Regions from separate parts of the Homo sapiens genome. Here region 1 is linked to region 2. Evidence: fine-mapped expression QTL. Tissue or cell type: whole blood. Region 2 holds a variant in brackets; the other region holds the start of a gene. All regions are shown on one strand. Distances are from middle to middle. Region 1 holds the start of TMEM43 (transmembrane protein 43). Region 2 holds the start of XPC-AS1 (XPC antisense RNA 1).

Region 1 (11,539 bases), 22 kb after region 2:
TGCCTGTGACTGTGACCCTCACAGTACAGGCCTGGGCTGCATGGCCCAATGGCATGGTGCCAACAGCGTACAGGGTGTTCAAATAACAGGAAAGCTCTGGTGCCCAGGGTAGTTTTGTGGCCTTGCACTGGACACACATGGTCATCAGAGTCATGAGAGCACCTCCCTGAGTGCCAGCCACTGTACCAAGGCGTTAGTTACCTAATCTCACCAAATCCTCAAGGCTGGCCACAAGCTTGTAACCATTACCGTCCCCATTTTATACACGAAGACACTGAGACTCAGGATAGACAAGTCCACACAGCTGCTGAGTGGTAAAGTCGGGAATCACTCCCATGTGTGACCATCTCCAAGGCCCATGCTTTCAAATCCTCAGCCAGACAACATCCAGGATGAGCCCCGAGCCACTGGCAGGTCAGCATCCCCTGCCAAACCTACCTTGGATGTCCGTAAGGCGCCAATGATGTGCACCAGCCTTCCTTCATTCTCCGGAGCCACACTGTGGATGCTGTCGGGAGACACCACAAGCGAGAGCCCCTCAGCCAATGAGGTTGCCGTCTTCAATGCGCGGCCCTGGGAGCAAAGGGGAGTGGGGATTTCAACAGCTCAGGGGTGGCTCAGCATGACTGTGCTTGTTGCAAAGTATTAGGGTAGGATGGGGCCTCCGGGAGCGCTGAGACCCATCTCCCCACCGTACAGTTGGAAAACTGAGGTCTAGCAAGTGGAGAGTAAGGACTGGAACCCAGATTCCTGCTTTCCCAGGGAGACTTCTTCCTACTGCCCCATTGGTTCCCACTAGCCCCCACCAATCTTAGCACTGCCCCAGTGGTGGGAACAGCTGATGTTTCTGCCTGCCTGTCCCTTTCTCCCCATTTTTCTCTGCCTTCTTTTTTTTAATTTTATTTTTATGTTTAAGTTTTTTGTAGAAATGGGGTCTTGCTATGTTGCCCAGGCTGCTTTCGAACTTCTGACCTCAAGCGATCCTGCCTCCTTGGCCTCCCAAAGTGCTGGGGTTACAGGCTTGAGCCTCCATGCCTGGCTCTCCTCTCTCCTACTCAGCCCATGTGGTTTACCTGAGTCTATCTGAACCCTGGTCAGATTATGGGACCCAGACCTTGCCAGTCAGAACATGTGAGTGCGCCCTGGACACGGAGACTGATTCAGAGGACGGAGAGCCAAGCCAGGACACTGAGAGATGGCCCTGTAACTGCTGCTAAATTGATTTAGAAATATACTGTTGCATCATGAGGCCCTATTAAAAAAAAGGAGAAAAAGAAAGAGAGAGGGAGAGAAAGAAAGAAACAAACAAACAAGAAAGAGAGAAAGAGAGAGACAAAGGAAGGAAGGAAGAAAGGAACAAAGGAAGGGAGGGAGGGAGGGAGGGGAAAGAAAGGAAAAGAAAGAAAGGAAGAGAAACAGATGGTTTTTCTCTTCCCTGGGCTAAGTGGTTGGATGTAGGCCAGTTGCTGGGGCCACATTTGCCATCACAGATGAAGTGCCTGCCCAAGAAAAACACCATAATAGAGAAAAACAGGCAAAAGATGAAGAAATGGAGATTCCTGGTGACCCAGCATGAACACCTGGATCCAACTACGCCTGAGGCAGGTGCTAACCCCTGGATATTCAGGTGTGTGAACTGATCTACTCCCCTTCCTGCTCACATCAGCTGTGGGATGGATCACAATGGAAAGAACTGTGATTAACTCAGTATCCTCCTTTCTCTTTTTAAAATCTAGGCCCTTGATTACCAAATCCAGCCTCCGGGTTCATCGCCTTTGCTCTCTGACATGGTGGGGACTCTCACTCTGCACAGGAAGACCCCAGACATTTTACCTCATTGGTGAAAATTAGGTAGAAGGAGAGCAGGAAGGCCATGAGCCCCACAAACATCCCACCCGAGGTCTCGCTCAGCCGTTCCAGGAAGCCTGGCTGGGAGCTGGTTTTAACTTTGACATGTTCTCTCCGGGTACTGGTACTGGAATACTGAAGAAAAAGAAACAGTAACAGAATGAAAACTAGTTTTTAAAAATAAATTAAATTTGCTATTTATTTATACTCAATTTTTTTTTTTTTTTTTTTTTTTTTTTAGTTTTAACTGTATGTGGTAAAAACACACAGATATTCAATGTACAGTTTGGCAGGTTTCCACAAACGTATATTCCATCTGACCAACATCTAAAGCAAGGTACAAAATATTTCCATCACCCCAAAAAGTTTCTTTGTGCCCCTTTCCTGCCAATTCTCCCCCTCTCCACCAACCAGAGGTAACTGGTGGGGATGGGGAGAATCTGAATTTGAATTTCTCCTACCGTAGATTAGTTTGTTTCTTCTACAACTTGAGAAAAATGGAATCAGGGCACCAACTCCTTTCTGCCCAGCTTCTTGGACTCAGAGCACTGCTTTTGCAATTCATTCATGTTGTGGTGTTTATCAGGAATTTGTTCCTTTTCATGGCTGAGTAGTATTCCATTTATGACTATACCACAGTGTGCTGAATCATTCGTCAGTGGATGGGTATCTTGACAGCTTCCAGGTTTTGGCTGTTATGAATAATGCTGCTGTGAATATTCATACATGAACCTTTATGCAGACATGTGCTTTCATTTCCCGTAGGAATATACCTAGGAGTACAACTGCTGGCTCGTGAAGAAGATGTACGTTTAACTTTTTATGAAACTGCCAAGCTATTTTACAAAGAGGTTATTAGAGATGTATTTTTAATTAAATTCAGCAAACAGTGGCTGAGCTTTCTGAGGGCAGTGCTAGCCCTTGTGGGGTCAGAAGTAGACAGTCTTAGGGCAGTGAGGTCACAACCATAAACAATACTAGAAGGTCACACAGAGGGTCCTGTGATGGGGGTGGACTTGGTGCTCAAGGAGTGACCCCTTCCACCTGGGGTATCAAGGAGGCTCCCTTGAGTGGAATCTTAGAGGCAGATCTTAGGGGAAGAGCATCCCTAAAGGGAGAACCGTATCAGCAGTGATGAGGAAGTAGGAAGTGGTTCTGGGGGAGCAGCTGCCTGTCTGCTTTGGCTGGGTGGGAGCAGTGGAGGAAGAAAGGGCTTGGAGGTAGGCATTTCTGGGCAGGTTCACAGTGGGCCTCAAACTCAAGGGTGAGTGGATCAGGCTTTGGTCAATAACAGAGGCATGATTTGGGGTGCATCCACTGCTGATCAAAAGTGTCATCGTCTAGGGCAGGATTCTGGAGCCAGAAGAACTGGGTTTGCATTTATGCTCTGCCACATACCAGCTACGGGGTCTTGGGCAAGCAACTTCACCACTTTGTGCCTTCCATTTCCTCTGTGCATAGGGTTGTGGTGAGAACCAAAGAACACAGTTATTGGGTAGCTCAGGGCCTAGGGCGTGGTAAGCACTGGACACGTGTTAGCTAGTAGAAATGTTACCAGATTTCCCTACAACTGATACTGGGCTGGCACCAGGCTGGGGGTGAGCTGACAAAAGTCACAAAGATGTAAAGTGGGGCCCAGCTAAGACAGGCCCCATCCTGGTATTGGGGGCCAGAGGAGTGATTTGACTCAGAATCTCTGCTTGAACAAAGCTGATGTCGCATTCTGATTGTCTTTGAGTACCACCAGCCAAGGCCTCCAGTGACCAGATGTCCATGAATCCAGAAGTCGTCTTGACTTTCCATGCCATTTGGAAACATTAGGTGAGTGAATCACCACATAGGGGCAGGTGACCATCACAATGATGACAATGGCAAACACACCGGGTCTATCACAGGCCAGCCCACAGGCAAGCCCAAAGAGCGGGATGTCATAACGACCCCATTTCACCGATAAGAAAATCGGGCTCAGGGTTACGTCATCTTCCCAGATCACACAGCTTCTAAGAGGAAGAGTTAGGATTCAAATCCGGGCAGACTGGAGGCTACTCTCCCATTACTCATTCCAGTCTGTGCTCCCCATCTCTTGGGCTACAATGTGAGCTGAATGTTGGGAGCCAGCTGCAGGCAGCAATAGGAAAATAAGGCGTGTCTTCCTCTTGGGCCTCCCCTCAGCCAGCATCAAGATAAGGGGCTCAAAGACGGCCTTGGAGGGAAGGAAGAGAGGTACAGGAGGGTGCCCCTCAGGCTAGGGGAGGGGTGAGGTGGGCAGTGACATGACAAACCCAGCCCACATTCTGAACCAAAATTCCCAGTAAACATGGAGGATCATAAAGGATCTATATATCCACACATATTTATATATACATATAGTATGTATTACATGTATACACACATTATATAAACACACACACACACGCACACACAGACGGACATCCCCAGTGACACATCCCCTCCCAGTCCTAGCACTCAGGACTTAGAAGAAATGAGCAATGAGTGGTGGGAACAGAGGCTGACACATAGGCCCTGGAAATGGACAGAACTGGATTTGATGCCTAGGTTCACCAATCGCTTGCTGTGTAAGCCTGGGTAAATTGCTCTACCTCTCTGATTCTGTTTACTCACTTATAAAGTGGAGAGGGGAATAGTACCTTCACCACAGGTACTGCTGCTGCTGTACTGATTGAGAATTTTGTTGCCTCCCTGCTCCATCCCGCTATCTTCTTCCTCACCCAGCCTAGTGGCTGCTGTAAATGTGTACTCAGCTACTGGATGAATCAAAAAATGCTTGGCAGCAGAGAATACTCAAATGCATGTATATTCCTTGGTGAGGGGTCAGGTCTCAATGTACCCAAGATGATCTCTATCCACTGGGACCATTTGTGCTACCCTGCAAGGACAGGCTTGTTTTCAAGTATTAAGTACCTACCACACATCAGGCACTGTGCTAAGCAGTCTCCCTTAAATATCACAGTAACTGATCCATGAGGCTACATAAACCTGGAGAGATGAAAGCCACACAGCTACTGGGTGGAAGAATCTGGATTGCCCCCAGGTCTCCCTAACTCCAAAGCCTGCCCTTTTCAGCATATTTCCGTGTCACAGCATGCCAAGCCGGCCACGAGAGCTTGGGCAAGTGCCTTCCCCTGCTAGGGAAGTTCCCCATCTGTAAAATATGGTGGTGGTAGTGATGGGAGCAGACAAAGAGTCCACATACTACAGACAGGCTGGTCTCCTGACTGCCCTCTCGCCTGGCCGAGCCTGAGTCTCTCCGAATACCTCTGAGGCTTTTCTAGGTACAACATTCAAGGCTTCTAACCCTCCTGTGGGCCCGAAATGTCCTGGGAGTGTGGATGATACTAACCCGAGACAAAGTGTACTAGGGCTGTGGGTGATGCACACCCTGGCCTCTCAAGGGGTGTGGGAGGCAGAGAGGACGCTTGGGGACAGAGGCGGTGTCTGGAAATAGGGTGTGACAGGCAAGGGGAGAGCTGCTAGGACACTCTACCAAAGCAGGAGGGAGGGTGTGTCTGGGGCTGGCTGGGCTCCTAAGCGGGCCCTAGAAGCACTTTCACAGAGGAGGGGAGAGGTGAGTCACCAGCTTCTCCCACACCCAGCGCCCTGGTAGGAGGCGCTGCTTGTTGAATGAATGTTGGGCTTAAATAGTTTCCCGAGAAAGGCTAGTTGCAGGGAGAAGAGGCCTTGAGGGAACAGCCCTCAGCCAGGCCTCCTCCAACCAAATCCTTGCTAGGGGGAGGAGGGGCCCCGACAGTAGAGAAATGCTCCCTCTCCCCCAACTCCTTCGCTCCCAGCCCAGCCTAAGCTTTTTGGAGCATCACAGACTCGGTTTACAGAGACTCCCTAGGGCGGAGAGCTCTCTGCCCGCCTGGACAGCCCTGTCTGTCCATTGCTGGACAGCTCCACTTGGGCTGGATCGCCTTCCTCCCTCCCAAGGGACTGGCGCCCTCTCTGAGGTCGCGTCCAGCTCTCATAATGCGCAAGTTTCAGGGCCCCAAGGTACAGGAGGGAACTGGGAATGCAAGGAGGGGCCGCGGAGAGGCGTACAAGCAGATCCCAGTACGGGAGCAACACCTCCGAGTCCGCCTCCGCACGAACGCCGAGGACGAGGCGAGCCAAGGAACACGGACAAAAGAAGCCTGGACAGGCCGCGAGATGAGCAGAGGGATGAGCTGGCGAAGGCACAGACACGGCGAGCAGAGGGAGATGCGGGCCTAGCCGCACGGAGGAGCTCCAGGCGGCGAAATGGACCTAGAGGACCCCGGGGAAAAGCCCCAGGGCGACGGGGAAGCCTGGGTGTGGCCCGGCTGGCCCGGGGATACTCACATTCGCGGCCATGGTGGGACCCGGCTCGCTGCCGCCGCCTCGCGCTGTTCAGCTAGGAAGTGGGCTGACGACTGGAGCGTGGTGTCCAGCGGCCTCTTGCCAGCCCCAGCTTCGAAAATCCGCGTGGACTCCAGGGCCAAGCGGGACTTACTGCAGTTACCTCCCCCTGTGCCCAGTGTTTCTGCGCATGCGCGCGGCGAGACGTCCTGGAAACTATACGGTCCGGGACATTGCAGTACCTCATTGATGCGCCTGCGCACTGCAAAGCTTTCGGGGAAATGTAGTTTCTACTGCCTGGAGAGCTGTCGAGGAGCGCGCGACCTGCTGGGAAATGTAGTTTCCGGCTGAGGTTGGCCTGGCCGCGGTTGCGAGGGCGCCGAGGCAGGCGCGCGGCGGGCAGGCCTGGGAGGGGGCGGGTCCGCGCGGGCTTCGGAGGAGCCCGCCCTGCCAGAGGAGAGGGAGGTCACGGCGTAAAGGTGCAGCTGCCGCCACCGCCGCTTCTGCAAGGTCTCAGGGACGGGCTGCAGCCATGTCCTATTGCCGGCAGGAAGGTAGGGAGGGCGGGCTGCCACGGAGACCGGCCTACGAGGGCCTGCGGGAGACACGCGGGCCCCGGCGCCCCGCGACCACGCCGGGCGCGGGCCACCTGAGGCGCGGCCCAGGTGCCCACCCTGGGACACTCGGAGGCGGGCCGGCTGGGGGGTCGCTACTCCTGTTTTGCGGATGAGAAAACCGAAGCTCTGGGGGGAACGGGGCTGGTCCAAGGTCACAGTGAAGCCCGAACCCTGACCTCAGAGGGGCCTGTGCGTAGGAAGTCGTAAACTAGGTCCGGTTGGGGCACGGGAAGTGCCGAGCACGTTGCGTGTGGCTCGAAACTGGGAATGTATGGTGGTTAATTATCACTACCGCTCCTGCCATACCCCACGTGTTTACATTTTGCACGCGCCTTTAAAAGGCGCGTCCCGAAAAGTTGCCACTCGGGGTAGCGTGTGCTGTGCTGGAGTGCTAGGAGTTCCACTAACGGGAATGTTTTTGAGCCCCCTGCTACCTGTCAGGCACTGTTCAAGGAAACTTGCCTGGCTTGTCTCACAGATCTCGCTGCGACCTTTGTAAGTCAGGCTCTGTTGTTGGTCACATTTTACTGAAGAGTAAAGTTAGACACAGGAGACATGGCTAAAGCCACTCAGCCAGCAAATCGTGGAGCTGGGGTTTGAGCCTGGGCATTGTGACCCCAGAAGAGCCTTATCCAATCTAGTGCCCAGTGGATTGCAGGGAGAACCCTGCCTACCTCCCACCCCAAAGTTGAGCTCCGACCACCTACTGCTTCCTTGATGTTACTCTACCCAAGAGCTCAGAAGTACCCGAGCCACAGGTCGGAGGGCCTCCCCACACACTGCCACAAACTGGCTCCTTGGCCCTGAGCTCCCACCTAACCCCTCCAGGCCCTGGTATCCAGTGTTGTAAAATGAGATGTTGGGCTTCATTGATACGGCAAATACTCATGAAGCACCTTCTCTGCGCCAGAGAAGGGGGATGGATGGTTATAAAACTACAGAGAGAGTTGGAAGTCCCCCAGAAATTCTTTGGTGAATACTCCAGCTCCGTCAGTTAATTCAAGCAATCTGAAGCCCAGAGAAGGAGGTGGCCTACCTGTAGTTACACATCCAGTTAGGAGACTAGCTCAGCCTAAAATTCTGAGCCTTTTCCCTGGTGGCGCTGTCTGCTTCTAGAACCTCTCCTCCTCTGGGTCGTAAAGCCATAAGACTCACTCTTTAATGAGTACTATTATATTTCCGCTGATTACTACTTAATGTGTGCCATAAGCAAAAGTCCTCTGCCCTCACCACTCTTGTTTTTAATTTCGAGTCTTTCTCTAATTTACTTCATTTAGCAAATAATTTTTGAGCCTTTGGGTATAATGAGGCTGTGCTGATAAACAAGACCCTCCTCTTTGAGGATTTACAGGAGGCAGTTTTCTCTGGAAAGGGGAGGCTAGGTCCATCTGCCTCCAAAACATGGAGCCCTATCTTTTCCTGCTTCAAAGATCTCTCTTAGTTCGGAGAGGAGTGAGAATTGAAAGCACTCACTTATAGGCCTTCCTTAGTATTTATCTTGTGCATACCACTGTCCCCGTAAGAAGTCCCTAACTTCCCCCCCTCCGCCCCCCACTGATCCTTTATGCTTCCCATAGGATTTTTAAAAAATGATCCCAAACTGCTTACTGTATCAGAGCTTATGTGATCTGGCCCTGTCTGCCTTTCCAGCCTGGTCTCTTCCCACCCTTTTGCTGCCCAGCCTCTAGCCTCTTGGCTATTCCCTTGGTTTGGTATATCCTGCCTTCAGCTCTTCCGTGGCTGACTCCTCATCCTTTAACATTTAGCTCCAATATCACCTCCTGACCCTTTGTGTCTTTCACATCCTGAACTGTCTGAAATGACCTTTTTTATTTTTTGCCATCTTACTTCCTGCCTGTCTTCTCGCACTAAGCTGAGAGCATCAGATGGGCTGTGGAATCCCCAGCATCTAGCACAGGGCTTGGTGTACAATGGGTGCCCACATCTTTATTGAATCATGCATTTACCTGCCCTCTGTTCTGAGTGAATCACTTGCCTGTACAAGTTTATTTCAGGGGTCCACCTGCTACCCAGCCTTCAGGTTAAACTCGTTGGTTTGGCATTCAAGGGCTCTCAGCCTCGCACCTGGGCCTTGGGCTAGCCACACTTCTCCTGTGTCAGCACCATAGTGTTTCTTTCTTAGTTTCCTCTTTCTAATGCAGAGCCTGCCAACTCCTGTTCAGTCAACAATTATAGAGCACACGTGATGTGCCAGCCATTGGGCATATAGTGGTGAGCAAGGTGACACATTCTCTGCCCTCCTGGCATGGTGGAACAGATTGCCATTAAAACATCACCAGACAAATGCATGATTACAGACTGTCATAGGTGACATGAAGGAAAAGCCCAGCATGCTATGATCGTTTAGTGAAAGGCTCTATGGGGTCTGAGAAGGCTTCCTGAGGCTTCAGACATCCTTTTAAATGCCACTTTCTTAAGAAAACCTTTTGCAATCCTAAACACGTGTGAGCGAACACTACTTAAAACCCTCCTTTTGCCCTCCAGGCTTTGCCCAGGATGGTTCCTTCTGGAATGTCTATTCCCCTCCTTCCCTCCCTGAAGCTCTTTGTCAGGGACAAAGGTAGGATCCCTCCCCTTCCGTCTTCTCCACTGGATGCCTGTGTCGTATTCATCTGTGACCACCAGGTACTACCACAGAGCTGGAGCTGAGGAAGGTTTGTTGAGCTAAACTTCTAACACTTGCATTCTTCTTAACACTCTGTCTGAAAGCCATTTGTGTATTCTTCACAGACACTTGATTCTGTATGGGGGAGTTGTATCTTTCAAAGGGGTTAGATTCTAAACATGAAAGTCCTTAGCAGTCAGATTTATCAAACTCTTAGAAACCCCTTACCTCACTCAAAATACACCACAGGCACCACTCCCTCTGGCTTTAGATCTCTTTCTTGGGTTGAGCTTCAGAAAGTAGTGGTTGGAATTGTATCACAGGTGTATTGAATCAACTTAGCCAAAAACGAAAGAAAATAAGTCCTTAGTGCAGGTTGCCATTCTCAAACATGACCCTGGGGAGTCAGCATCCATGGGAGACAATAAACTGCTTCCTCTGCAGGACACAGGGGCATTCCTTCTGGGGTGGATGAGCTGAGAGATTCTGGTGTATAAAGATCCTCCCCTTTCATGGGGGAAATCAAACTACTCATCCAAGGGATTTTTTGGTCTCACTCACTTAATGGTGATAACCATTCTGTCTTCCTGCTTTCTGCTGGGACTGGGTGACAGAGCAGGAGTAGCGTCATCTCGGACAAACACTGGCACATTAAGTTCCAGCTCCCTTTCTAGCCTCATGCATTTCAAGGAAGTCACTTCTCTTCTAACTACAAGCAGCCAGAAAGAGCAGACAGTAAAACACAGACAAGACAGCTGGGACACAGAGGGAGGTGGGGGGAAAGTCTCTTGGGTGACTGCCAAACTTCACCCTCATACAATGGGCCCCAGTAAAACTGTGGGCCTTAATAAGCACATTCCTTTCCCTTCAGGTGTACTAAGATAGGGAAGCTAAAAGCAGTCTTGGGGGGATATGCCTGCAGCTGCAGAAAGATGTATGGAAACAGACACACCAGTCTGCCTCCCAGATAAGCACAACAAAGAGACACAGAAGCAGTCCAAGCCACTGATAAGCTCTCCCACCCTGAATCCTTAAAAACTCTTAGTCTGTAAGAGAGTGTGGCTCTGACCTAACTCAGCCAGCAGCCCCTCTCAGGTTTGTTTAAAATAAACCTGTCCCTGTTGACTGAAAAGCCACCCTTCGTGTTTCTCTCCTCTTTAATTCTTACACTTGGGTCTTCAAGCCCTAATCCAGAGTTGTTTCTCCATTCATTTTTTTCAACAAATATTGAACACCCACTTTGTCCTTGGTACTATTCTGGGCTCTCAGGATACTGCAATGAACAGAATAGACAAAAATCACTGCCTCTGAGGAGCTGACATTCCAGTGGGGGCATCAAGTGGTAAACATACATAGTATGTTGGGTGACGAAAAGCACTTTGGAGAAAGATAAAGCGGGATAAGGGAGATGGGCAGTGGTCAGGGACGGTGGCATCTGAGCAGGAGGTGAAAGCAGGGAGAAATCGCTGTGAGGGTACCTGAGGGAAGGGAAGGTGCTCCTGGAGGACAGAACACCCTGTGCAAAGGCCAGAGGTAGGCATGTGCTCAGCACATTCAAGTAAAAGCAGAGGCCAGCGTGGCTGGAGTGCAGGGAGTGATGGTGGGAGATGGGGTCGAAGAGGTGAGGGATGCAGCTCTTTCTGGATGTATTTGAAGATCGAGCCATTCCAATTTGCTGTTGGAGATGTGAGAGAAAGACGGGTTGGGGTGGCTCTACCGAGAGTAAAACTAAACAGCTGGGGGTGGAAGGTGTCTTTGTATCTGACTGCTCACTCAGTTCTGTTCTCAGCCCCACCCTGAAGTCCTGCACTCAGAGTAACCCCTCGGGCCTCCAGTTCCCCACTCTGACCAAGGTTCTGGGGTGGGGACTGAGTTGATTCTGGATGACCTCCTCCTTGTGCACTTTGAGTTCAGCTTTCTTCACTGGTTAAGTCAGAGAGCACTCGACCATCAGCTCTCCCATTTCCAAAACATTATTGACATCTCTGAGCCTGTGATTGTCTCTTTTCCTGGCCATGCTATCCTTGATGCCCTTTAAAAATTGCTGTCAAGTGGGATTCCAGCTGACAGCAGAAACTCATTTCACCTCCCCAACCACGTGAGGTAGGTA
Region 2 (11,102 bases):
TGAGCTCTTAGCTCGGGAGGAAGAGTGAAGCCAGAGGAACTTTGCCTGCAGGAATCATTTGACTGTTCCATGTGCAGGTGTCTTGATTCTGTGATAGCTTATTAGCTTATTATAGTTGGCTTCTCTGCAGCCTTCCTTTGGGTTCACTGCCCCCTCCTGGACACTTCCCTCCCCCACATGGTGTTAACAGCAGATCAGAGCCTCAGCAGGTGTTCGCTTGGTGGTGGTAGTAAACGTGAGTGTGCCTGCGCACAGCGGCCTTTACCCCATCCTGATAGTCTGCAGCTGGAGCTCTCACAGGCTCTGGACAGCAGAGGAGAAGAAAACCTATGAAGGGGAGGAGTGGTGGAGGCAAGGCACAAAGGCTGCAGATTAGGGTTTGTAAGTGGACACATCCCCCAAAAGACAGGCAGTCCACGTTCAAGGCTGTTTGCCTAGCACAGCTTCTCTGGGCCCCCTAGGAGCTCGGCCTGCTCCAGGGTGGCTGAACCTGAGGAGGGAGCCTGCAGGGCTGCGCTCTCCACTGTCCCGCATTCCCGCAGTGGGGCTGTGGACTGAGTTACCTTTGTGTCCTGTGTTGGTTCCACAGGGATTGTGTGCACACTCTGCATTCCAGGGACACGTGGCTGAAGAAAGCAAGAGTGGTGAGGCTTGGAGAAGTACCCTACAAGGTAACTGGAGCTGGGGGGTCCCTGTGGGGAGTGGTGACACAGGCCTGTAGCTGAGCGGGAGAGCTGGGGGCAGAGAAGTGATGATGAGCCTCCCAGTCCTGCCCAGGATCCTGATCAGAAATGTCTCACTTTCCCGGCTTGAGCAGGATTCAAGGAGGAGAGAAACATTTAAATTGTCTTATTAATAAGACATTTGTAAGAAATGGATCTTCCAAAACACAAAAGAAATCTAGGCCAAAAAGTAGGCCTCAGACTCCTGTTGTGAATTCAAAGGTTCTACAGGTTGGAATTGAGTTACTGGGTCCTGGGAGGTCAGAGCCCTGCTTTATAGCAGCACGTTCTCCAGTCAGATTGCCCTTCTGTTTGGCAGTTCACTGAGCATTTTGCATGTATGTGATCTCTGTTGCCTCAAAAGCCATAGGAATTGGCATTATGATGCCCATTTTACAGATGAGAAAACTGAAGCTCAGGGCAAGTGACTTGTCCAAGTCCCCACAGTTAGTAAAATGGCAGAGCAGAGCCCAGGTGAGAATCCCAGGCTCTGCCTTAAAGCCAGTGCTCCTTTCACACTGTGCTGCGGCACTGTTAGGCTGGTTGCTCTTGAGGAACACGAACCGAGCGAGGTCCCACAGAGACTATTCACAGGACACACAGCTCCGTACGACCGGAAGTGTACAGTGGCTGATCACAGAGACCATTTACTTCTCATCAGACCCCAGGAGTCCTTGGGGGTTGCAAGACTCCGGGAAGCTGAGTGGGGAGTGGAGGGGCCTCCGCTTAGTGGGAAAGGCTGCAGGCGCTGGTCACAGTCACTGCCAGCAGCAGGCTGGAGTGGGCGATGCCCCCTGCCTGGGCCTGCAGGGTTGCTGAGGATTTTCTCTGCACCATCTCACCTGTCTTTTGTGCTGGAACCAGCATAGCAGTGTTCAGTTGAAATGTAACGTGAGCCACACATTTAAATTTTTTAGTAGCTACATTAAAAACCAAAAACAGGTGGAATTTTAACATTAAAATATATCCAGATATATCTAAAATACTATTTCAGCAGTAAGAAATATTTTAAAGTGTTGATGAGATATTTAAATCCATTTTGTTCCTAAGTCTCTCTAATCTTCTGTGTATTTGACTTTCTGTACCTTAGTTCAGACCAGCCACGTTTCAGGTGTGCAGTGGCCACACGTGACTGGTGGCTGTCATGGTAGCACAGTTCTGGAATCCCAAATCTCTCAAATTCACCCCTTGTTCTGATCCCCACCACCCCAGCTCCTGCCTCAGTATCTTTTGCTTGGGCAACAGCCACAGCCTCCTTCCCAGCCTGAATCCATTCCCCTGTCAGTCACTAGGCTCTTTCTGTGCATCTTGGCCATCCTTGTCCCACCTTGGCCAGCGCCTTTAGTCTGAGTCCCGCACCCTCCCCATGGTGCACAGTGATGTTCTGGTGCTCACTGCCTCTGCATTCCAGAGGACTTAGGCCCCAGGTCCCAGTGTTCTCCCACCTCTGTGCCCTGTGGGGTCCAGCCCTGTTCTCTTGGGCAACCCCTTGCCCCTTTAAGCCTCTGCTCAGGCGGGACCTGTTTTGAGCAGCCTTTCTTGCCTCCACTGTCCTCAGGGCTGGGCAATGGCTTGCCTCTGAGCTCCTGTTCCACCCTGTACTCATCACGCTGAGTCGTAGCTCTGTCTCTTCCCCTGCAGGAGCCTGAGCTCCTAAGAGCAAAGACTGTCCTCGCTCCATCCCTCCTTCATGACTGGGTCATGGCCTGGTCTCCAGGAGATCCCAGTGGAAGTTTACTGAACAGTGTGCTGGGTGAATGGCTTCTCAGAAAGGGACGGTTGTCAGAACTCAGAGTCCCTCTGTCCCTGAAGTGGTGACAGAGAGGGTGCGCCCAGAGATCATGGCAGGAATGGACATGAGAGCTCGCAGGCCACCCCCAACCTGGGGAATGGCTTTTCACATTTTTAAAGGGTTATAAGAATGAGAAGAATAAAGAATATGTGATGGAGGCCACGCATGACCCTTTACAGAACAAGCTTGTGGGCCCCTGCACTAGAGGAAGTCTGTATGCTGAGGCCCAGGGGCCAGCCCTCAGCCGCACGCCCATGCCTGACTCCTCTAAGAGTTACGTGACTCTGTCCTTGCCTGTCCTGCGCCCCTCTCACCACTTCACTCCCCAGGGAAGATCTTGGCCTTGGCCACTGCACGCTGTTGGGGAGCACACTGGGAGTCCTGAACTGTCAGTGCTTTCTAGGGCGTGTGAGCAGACATAGGTTATATGTTGAGACACAGGCTCTACTGATGGACAGTTACCTGAATTGTAAATCCTGGTTCTTGTCACTTACCAGCCATCAGCTCTTAAGTGACTTTGTCTCTCAGTCTCAGTCACTGCTATCAGTGATGACAGCACAGAATATAGGCTAGTGGATGAAAGTGTGGGCTCTGGCCCTTACGAGCTGTGTGACTTTAGGCAAATCATTTACCCCGTCTGTGGTGTTCATCTGTAAAATGGAAACAATAATAAGACCTACCTTGTGGGTTTGTTGAAAAAATTAAATAATAACATATAAAGCACTGAAGATAGGCTGGGCGCAGTGGCTCATGCCTGTAATTCCAGCACTTTCGGAGGCCAAGGCAGGTGGATCATTTGAGGTCAGAAGTTTGAGACCAGCCAGGCCAATATGGTGACACCCCATCTCTACCAAAAATATAAAAATTAGCTGGGCATGGTGGCGGGTACCTGTAGTCCCAGCTACTCAGGAGACAGGCACGAGAATCACTTGAATCCGGGAGGTGGAGGTTGTAGTGAGCTGAGATCACACCAGGGCACTCCAGCCTGGGCAACAGAGTGAGACTCCGTCTCAGGGGGATAAAAAAACAAAAAACACCGAGAATAGTGTCTGGGACAGAGAATGTTCCATAAATGTTAGCTAGTGCTTGTAGTAAGAAAAGGGGAGCAGCCGGGCACGGTGGCTCACGCCTGTAATCCCAGCCCTTTGGGAGGTTGAGGCGAGTGCATCACCTGAGGTCAGGAGTTCGAGACCAGCCTGGCCAACATGGTGAAACCCCCGTCTCTACTAAAAATACAAAAATTAGCCGGGCGTGGTGGCAGGCACCTGTAATCCCAGCTACTCAGGAGGCTGAGGCAGGAGAATTGCTTAAACCCAGGAGGCAGAGGTTGCAGCGAGCCAAGATTGCACCACTGTACTCCAGCCTGGGCGACAGAGCGAGACTCTGTCTCAAAAAAAAAAAAGGGAGAAAAAGCACCCCAGCTGGTAGGTGTGTTCTGAGGGTTCACCAGGTACCAGGCATGCGGCACTGAGCATGGTGCCTGGCCCGGTGCTGAGGAACTGGATGCCTTTGTTGTAAACGGTGGCCGTGTCCTCTGGTGCAGATGGTGAAAGGCTTTTCTAACCGTGCTCGGAAAGCCCGACTTGCTGAGCCCCAGCTGCGGGAAGAAAATGACCTGGGCCTGTTTGGCTACTGGCAGACAGAGGAGTATCAGCCCCCAGTGGCCGTGGACGGGAAGGTAAGGGCAGCATCAGAAGGGCTCAGGACCAGGCCGCCTTGTTCCCCTGCTGGCCAAATGCTGACTTGCTCACCCGACACAGGTGCCCCGGAACGAGTTTGGGAATGTGTACCTCTTCCTGCCCAGCATGATGCCTATTGGCTGTGTCCAGCTGAACCTGCCCAATCTACACCGCGTGGCCCGCAAGCTGGACATCGACTGTGTCCAGGCCATCACTGGCTTTGATTTCCATGGCGGCTACTCCCATCCCGTGTGCGTGAGGGGCCTTCGATGGAGGCTAAACACAGGGATGGGGAGGGGTGGCTCCAGAGATGGGGATGGAAAGCTGGCATGGGGCTGCTGGGAGTTGAGGCCTGGTGGCTCCAATTTTCAGGATGTTACACTGGATTTGCAAAGTCAGTGCTTTACCAATTCTGGCTTCCCTCCAGAGGGAACGGAGCCAATGAAACTGGCATCGTAATGCTGGATTAAAACGTTCTTCCCAGGTTTAGGGACTCACAGGCTAGTGAGCAAAAAACAGTCAGCATCTTTCCCCGGCAGCTGCCTGGTTAGTGAGCTCTGTTCCATGATGGGTGAGGCTGGATAGGGGCTTTCACCCCAGCTTTCTTCGGCAGAATCTGGGGAGGAAGAGGCAGTGCCAGCTTCCACAGGCCTGCCTTCTGCACGGAGGATGTGGGACACTGGCTGACCCGCGACATCCTTCAGGACCCCTAGTGCTCAGATGTGGCCCACTGTCTTCCACAAACTGGGGAGGGAGGAGAGGCAGAGCAGGCAGCAGGTTCGAGGGTTGACATCGCGTTGTGTCCCCACAGGACTGATGGATACATCGTCTGCGAGGAATTCAAAGACGTGCTCCTGACTGCCTGGGAAAATGAGCAGGCAGTCATTGAAAGGAAGGAGAAGGAGGTAAGCGCATATGCAGGACTGAGGGACAGCAGAAGCGGGAAGCAACACTCAGCGGGTGGCCTCTTCCTTCCCCAGGCCGCCTCCGTGTGCTCCCAGGCTCTTCCCAGCCCTCTCTGACATCATGGCAGGCACCCGAGGGAGCGAGCACTGAATACAGCAGGCTCCTGCCCACCCCGCAGACTATCACTGTCCCTGAGGAGCCTGGGTCCGGGCTCTGGGGTCTACTGCCCCTGCTGCCCACACCTGCCTCTGTCTTGAATTGCCTGTGTCCAGGTTCTGGAAGACCTCACCCACTAAAGATTTTGGAGTCAGTAACGATTAAAAAGTTATCTGTTTTTGTGGCTTTCAGGTATAGTATATCACTTTGTAAATCAGATCAATTTTTTGGAAGTGAGACTTGGTGTGAAGGAGAGGCTATATTCTAAAGTGGTGTATATATCTGTCTTTACATTCACAGTTTCCATCTTAATATTTTTCCTGAAAATGTCAGTGCTTAACACTTTTCTCCCACTTCATTTTTGCCTGCAGAAAAAGGAGAAGCGGGCTCTAGGGAACTGGAAGTTGCTGGCCAAAGGTCTGCTCATCAGGGAGAGGCTGAAGCGTCGCTACGGGCCCAAGGTCAGTGCAGGTTCTTTGCAGAGAAGACAAGCTCAGGGTCAGTTTCTTGGAGATGCAGCTCAGAAAGGCCTGGCCCAGATTCTGCCCCAGCCTCAAGTCAGGGATAGCTTTGTGTTAGGACACCTCAGTCTTCTGTCTCTAAGGCCGCTTGTTTTTACCTTGTTGGGAAAGGTGTCCCTGGAGTGAGGCCTCAGCTGGCTCTTCTGCCCCAAGCCCTGTCCCAGTGTCCCCGTTTCTACTGTCCACATGAGCAATGCCATGGGTCTGATTTGGCGCTGAACACATAGGGAGGGCCAAGTGTCCTGCATTTGGTGCACCCTTCCGCCTTCCAGTGTTCCCAGTGCCTGTGACCATGCTGCAGGCCTGCAGTGGCCCGCTCAGTACCTCTCTCACAGCACCTGCCATGTGCCAGGCCAGGCTTGGACACAGGTGTGAATTTGACATGCAGCCCTCAAGGGGGCCCCTCCCTGGGGCAGATGGACCCTAGGCCCAGTTACATGGTATAGTCAGTGCTGTGTCAGACACAGCAGAAACTGCTCTGGCATGTTTTGTTCCCTCTCTCCAACCCTCTGTGCTGCCTGTTTGCCTTTCAACATTTTTTTGTCACGCTCCTCATTCCAGTCCCTCTGGTGGAGAAAAGCCCTTCATCTGACTTTATGTTCTGACCAGCTCCTTGCCGCCTTCTCCATCCAAACCCTCCCTAGCCATCCCAGCTGGCAGGGAGTGCCGCCTCAGATCTTAGGGCTCCGAGGGCTGAACTGTGCATCTTGCCCGTTCAAGACATCATGTGCTTTGGTCCAGAAATGAGGTAGCAAATGCAAGGCACGAATCACAGGCATCCCCAGATGAGGCAGTGTGCTCCTAGAGGGCAGCTTCCTGCCCAGCCATCATCCTTGTGTTCCCCTGCACTCAGCTCGTAGCAGGTGCTCCAGTGTCTGCTTGGATGCACCCCAGGCTGGGACGGCTCAGTAAGAAGGGTCTGGGCTCTCTCCCTGCCCTGTCCCATGCCCTTGTCCTCCCAGAGTTACACAGCTTAGGGCAGGCTGGGAACTTGCTGCCTCTTCATGGGGCTTCCTGGTATCTGATTACTAACCCTCGCCTGTGTCCTCCCACCACTGCCACCTGTCCAGAGTGAGGCAGCAGCTCCCCACACAGATGCAGGAGGTGGACTCTCTTCTGATGAAGAGGAGGGGACCAGCTCTCAAGCAGAAGCGGCCAGGATACTGGCTGCCTCCTGGCCTCAAAACCGAGAAGATGAAGAAAAGCAGAAGCTGAAGGGTGGGCCCAAGAAGACCAAAAGGGAAAAGAAAGCAGCAGCTTCCCACCTGTTCCCATTTGAGCAGCTGTGAGCTGAGCGCCCACTAGAGGGGCACCCACCAGTTGCTGCTGCCCCACTACAGGCCCCACACCTGCCCTGGGCATGCCCAGCCCCTGGTGGTGGGGGCTTCTCTGCTGAGAAGGCAAACTGAGGCAGCATGCACGGAGGCGGGGTCAGGGGAGACGAGGCCAAGCTGAGGAGGTGCTGCAGGTCCCGTCTGGCTCCAGCCCTTGTCAGATTCACCCAGGGTGAAGCCTTCAAAGCTTTTTGCTACCAAAGCCCACTCACCCTTTGAGCTACAGAACACTTTGCTAGGAGATACTCTTCTGCCTCCTAGACCTGTTCTTTCCATCTTTAGAAACATCAGTTTTTGTATGGAAGCCACCGGGAGATTTCTGGATGGTGGTGCATCCGTGAATGCGCTGATCGTTTCTTCCAGTTAGAGTCTTCATCTGTCCGACAAGTTCACTCGCCTCGGTTGCGGACCTAGGACCATTTCTCTGCAGGCCACTTACCTTCCCCTGAGTCAGGCTTACTAATGCTGCCCTCACTGCCTCTTTGCAGTAGGGGAGAGAGCAGAGAAGTACAGGTCATCTGCTGGGATCTAGTTTTCCAAGTAACATTTTGTGGTGACAGAAGCCTAAAAAA[A/G]GCTAAAATCAGGAAAGAAAAGGAAAAATACGAATTGAAAATTAAGGAAATGTTAGTAAAATAGATGAGTGTTAAACTAGATTGTATTCATTACTAGATAAAATGTATAAAGCTCTCTGTACTAAGGAGAAATGACTTTTATAACATTTTGAGAAAATAATAAAGCATTTATCTAAAGATTTGGCTCTATATTTTCTTTCAGATTTTTTTTTTTTTAAGGGGTCTTACTGTCTTGCGCAGGCTGGACTCCTGGGCTTGAGTGGTCTTCCTGAGGGCTTTGCCTCAGCTGGCCCTCACAACCACCGTGTGTGGTGGAAAGGCATTGTTCGGGAAACAGTCCCAGCTCCTCAGGACTGCAGGCACCCACACACCACTGCCGTGCCCAGCTTCTTTCAGATTTAAGTCGGTAATAACACCCAGGTGACAGAGCAATGTATTCATATGTTGAGACAGCATGAAAGAGTCCATTTTGTTTTCATGGAGGCTGGAAATTCATTACATATGGAATTCTTCTGTATTTAGTGAAGAGATGTTAATCTTTGAGAGGAGCCATTAAAAATCGGAGTCACTTTTATCCAAGGGAAACAAACAAAACACTTGAGTTATGACTCATATGTGGCAAGAGGCTGGCTGGAACCTCTTGTTGAGAAACAGACTGGGGTTGCTATGGAAACTGGTCTCACACTTCCTCACCAGAGCTCGGCCCTCCTATAGAGGCAACTTGTTTTCTGTTATTTTTTTTTTTAAATTATTTTTTGAGACAGGGAGGGTTCCACTCTTGCCCAGGCTGGGGTGCAGTGGTGTGATCCCAGCTAGTGGTGTGATCCCAGCTGACTGCAGCCTCAAGCAATCCTCTCAGCCTCCTGAGTAGCTGGGACCATGGGTATGCACCACCACGCTTGTCTTTCTGGGGTTTTGAGATGATGGCATTGCCATGTCTCTGCAGAAATAACTTCTTCAGGCATATGTCAGCTACAAGGAGGCATTATTTAAATGAAACAGTAGGTTCTGAGAAACAGAAGAGTAGGTTTGGGAAAGTTCTCACTCACGTGCTTGTAAAAAATAAAGCAAACTGCTAGCATCAGAGTGGGCAGTTAGCAGCCGCCTTTCAGAACAGGAAGCAAAATGAATGAAAAATTAATGCCTCATGTGTCAGGCATTCTATGGGCTTTGTCTCATTTGGCCCTCACAACAACTTTGTGAGGTGGACAAGTGTTATTCCCATTGTACTGATGAGGGAACAGACTCAAATCGTTGATTTACCCAACATCACAGCCAGTATGTAGCAATCTTTGGCTCAGAACTCAGGTCTCCCGTGTCAACTCAGGATGCCTCTGGCAGTGGAGCACACTGCTGCCCCTTCCACTTTTTCTAGCACATTCTGAAGATGCATGAAGCCTGAGTCATTCACTTTAAATCAAGCCAAAACAAAGTGGGCTTCAGTGTGGACTTCTGAGTGCTAGATACTGAGTTGCCCTTAAAAAAAAATTAACTTATTTTAAGCACTGAAAGCTCAGATTTCCACAAAATTCAGTTCTCAATAAATCCTATGGCTGAATTCTTTACAGACATTTTGGAAAGAATGCCAAAAAAAAAAAATCTGAAACTAAAAATAGGATGTTTGTTAAAGTCCCACACCAGAAGATAATTTAGAAATTTATTACAAAACTTTTAATAAAAAATACAATGATATTACAAATTTGGTTTTCCAAAGCTTTCAAATTTTTCTTAACATTATCTTTCGTTTTAAGAACACTTTTGAAGTCGGCAGTTATTTAAAATCCTTACTAGAAAAAAACCAAAGCCCAAGGATTTTGCATTTAGTCATCATCTAGGTATACAGCGTGTTTTCCGAAAGCATCCTTTAAGAGTTTGGAGATTTGATGAAATTGCTCATGTAATAAGCAGTTAGTGAATACTATTGAATCCTAAACCCAGATAAGTCATCTTGGGCTGGCTGTGTTTTTCATGTGAAGAAACTCATTTATAGCACAGGCACCCCAGGCCAATAGAGATGATTACAGATCTCTGGTTTCAGAAGTTCTGACCCCTTATTCAGCTACCAAATACTTAATTGCTAAAGGAATTACTCCCAGCAGGCACAAAACGGTTTCTGAATATGACAGAAAAGGTACACAAAGAATCATTTAAGACATCCTGGTTACAACATACTTTATCTTTAAAAGGGTGTGAGAGTAGTTGGGGAACTTAGAAATTCTGTGACTTAGGTGTGGGTGGATCTTATTTAGGAAGACTAAAGCTATGGACACAACACGTGAAAGAACCACTCAGAAGCAGCCCTAGGAAGCCCAGGTGCCCACATCGAAAGCACTCCCAGGTGAAAGCAGCCAGGCAGGCGTGGGCATTGTACAACCAGCCTCAGGCCTCAGTTCTTGATTGTGGTTGACGGGGCGTCACCATGAAGGAGCCCATTTAGTATAAAGCTTCCAACCTTTTCTCTTAATCGTTTCTTTAATCTTTTAAACCATCTTCAAGTGCATAGGGGAGTTTCCGATGCCAGAGGATGAAAGCAAGTGCTTTCTCCACCCTCTCCTCCCAGAGTGAAAACAAATCCTTTTGCTGATACTTGTTTCAAAAGCATCCATTGTAAAGCTTCTCAGTGACACAAAATACTGAGAGGTAACTTTTTATCAATCAAACCACATACCCCAATTTAACACCTTTCAGTGCTCTGAATTCAACTGACAGACTAAAGGGTGTTTCCTGTAACAGTCTGAAATATTAAGTGTTTTTTTTGTTTTGTTTTTAAATCTTATTTCAGAAAACTTCCTCTTGGGGTAGGAAAGTACACATGAAGCAGCAAAGTAACGAAGAAAAACTTAAATAGGGCCTTCAGAGATCCCACACACTACAAAGATTCTGCCAAGCCATAAGATAAGTGTGAAGCCCAGTATATGTCCAGCTTTTCTCCTCAGGACATCTTCAGTGTTTCTTCTCTTTTAAACACCACATCAGGTTCTAGCCACAGACTTGTGTTTTGGGTGTGCCTGCTTTGAGGGGTCCATGCCCAGTGTGTCTGCTGGTGACCCAGGACTCAGCAGTAATGACTAACGGCCGCCCTTCAGGATCACAGATGTGCTTGGTGGTGGTGGCAAAGCATGGCACTTGTGTGCAGTGATGAGAAGCAGCACACGGCAAGGCTGAGCCCTTTATCAGCAGGCCTCCGTAGAGCGTGTCTGCGTTGTCAGCTGCCAATGGGCTGAGTGGCTGGCCGTACCCACTCAGTCCAAGAGAGGAAGGAAACAGCAGGAGAAGCTGTCAGCTTGCCATTCATGAGCTGCTGCTGCCCACCAAAGCTGCTTACTGGCAAGAAGAGATGTGGGGAAGACATGAGCTGGTGAACACCAACCTGGTGCACATGCTGCCAAGTCTGGCCCCTGAAGAGGAGAGGGAGTGCAG

The links. PIP is the estimated chance that this variant, and not a neighbour inherited with it, causes the effect.
Region 1: it holds the start of TMEM43, and the variant in region 2 is fine-mapped to the expression of TMEM43 in whole blood (TOPMed, PIP above 0.99).

The regions. Positions count from the first base shown.
Region 1 is chr3:14,119,856-14,131,394 of GRCh38, reverse strand. TMEM43 (transmembrane protein 43) reads right to left here and starts at 6,343. Exons shown (of 12, transcript NM_024334.3): 1 at 6,190-6,343; 2 at 1,834-1,983; 3 at 439-573. The coding sequence starts at 6,201. CHCHD4 (coiled-coil-helix-coiled-coil-helix domain containing 4) reads left to right here and starts at 6,525. Exons shown (of 3, transcript NM_001098502.2): 1 at 6,525-6,740. The coding sequence starts at 6,719. RefSeq lists enhancers at 5,709-5,998, 5,431-6,165, 6,099-6,298, 6,166-6,900, 7,669-7,768 and 2 more and silencers at 6,489-7,048, 7,059-7,108.
Region 2 is chr3:14,141,904-14,153,005 of GRCh38, reverse strand. TMEM43 (transmembrane protein 43) reads right to left here. Exons shown (of 12, transcript NM_024334.3): 12 at 9,326-11,102. It overlaps XPC (XPC complex subunit, DNA damage recognition and repair factor), which reads left to right. Exons shown (of 16, transcript NM_004628.5): 11 at 590-671; 12 at 4,058-4,192; 13 at 4,275-4,444; 14 at 5,005-5,098; 15 at 5,627-5,716; 16 at 6,847-7,859. The coding sequence ends at 7,065. It overlaps XPC-AS1 (XPC antisense RNA 1), which reads right to left and starts at 3,444. Exons shown (of 2, transcript XR_001740603.2): 1 at 3,404-3,444; 2 at 1-3,164. RefSeq lists enhancers at 1,651-2,151, 3,769-4,453, 8,117-8,226, 8,572-9,259 and a silencer at 8,883-9,177. The variant A/G (reference allele first, on the strand shown) is at 7,683.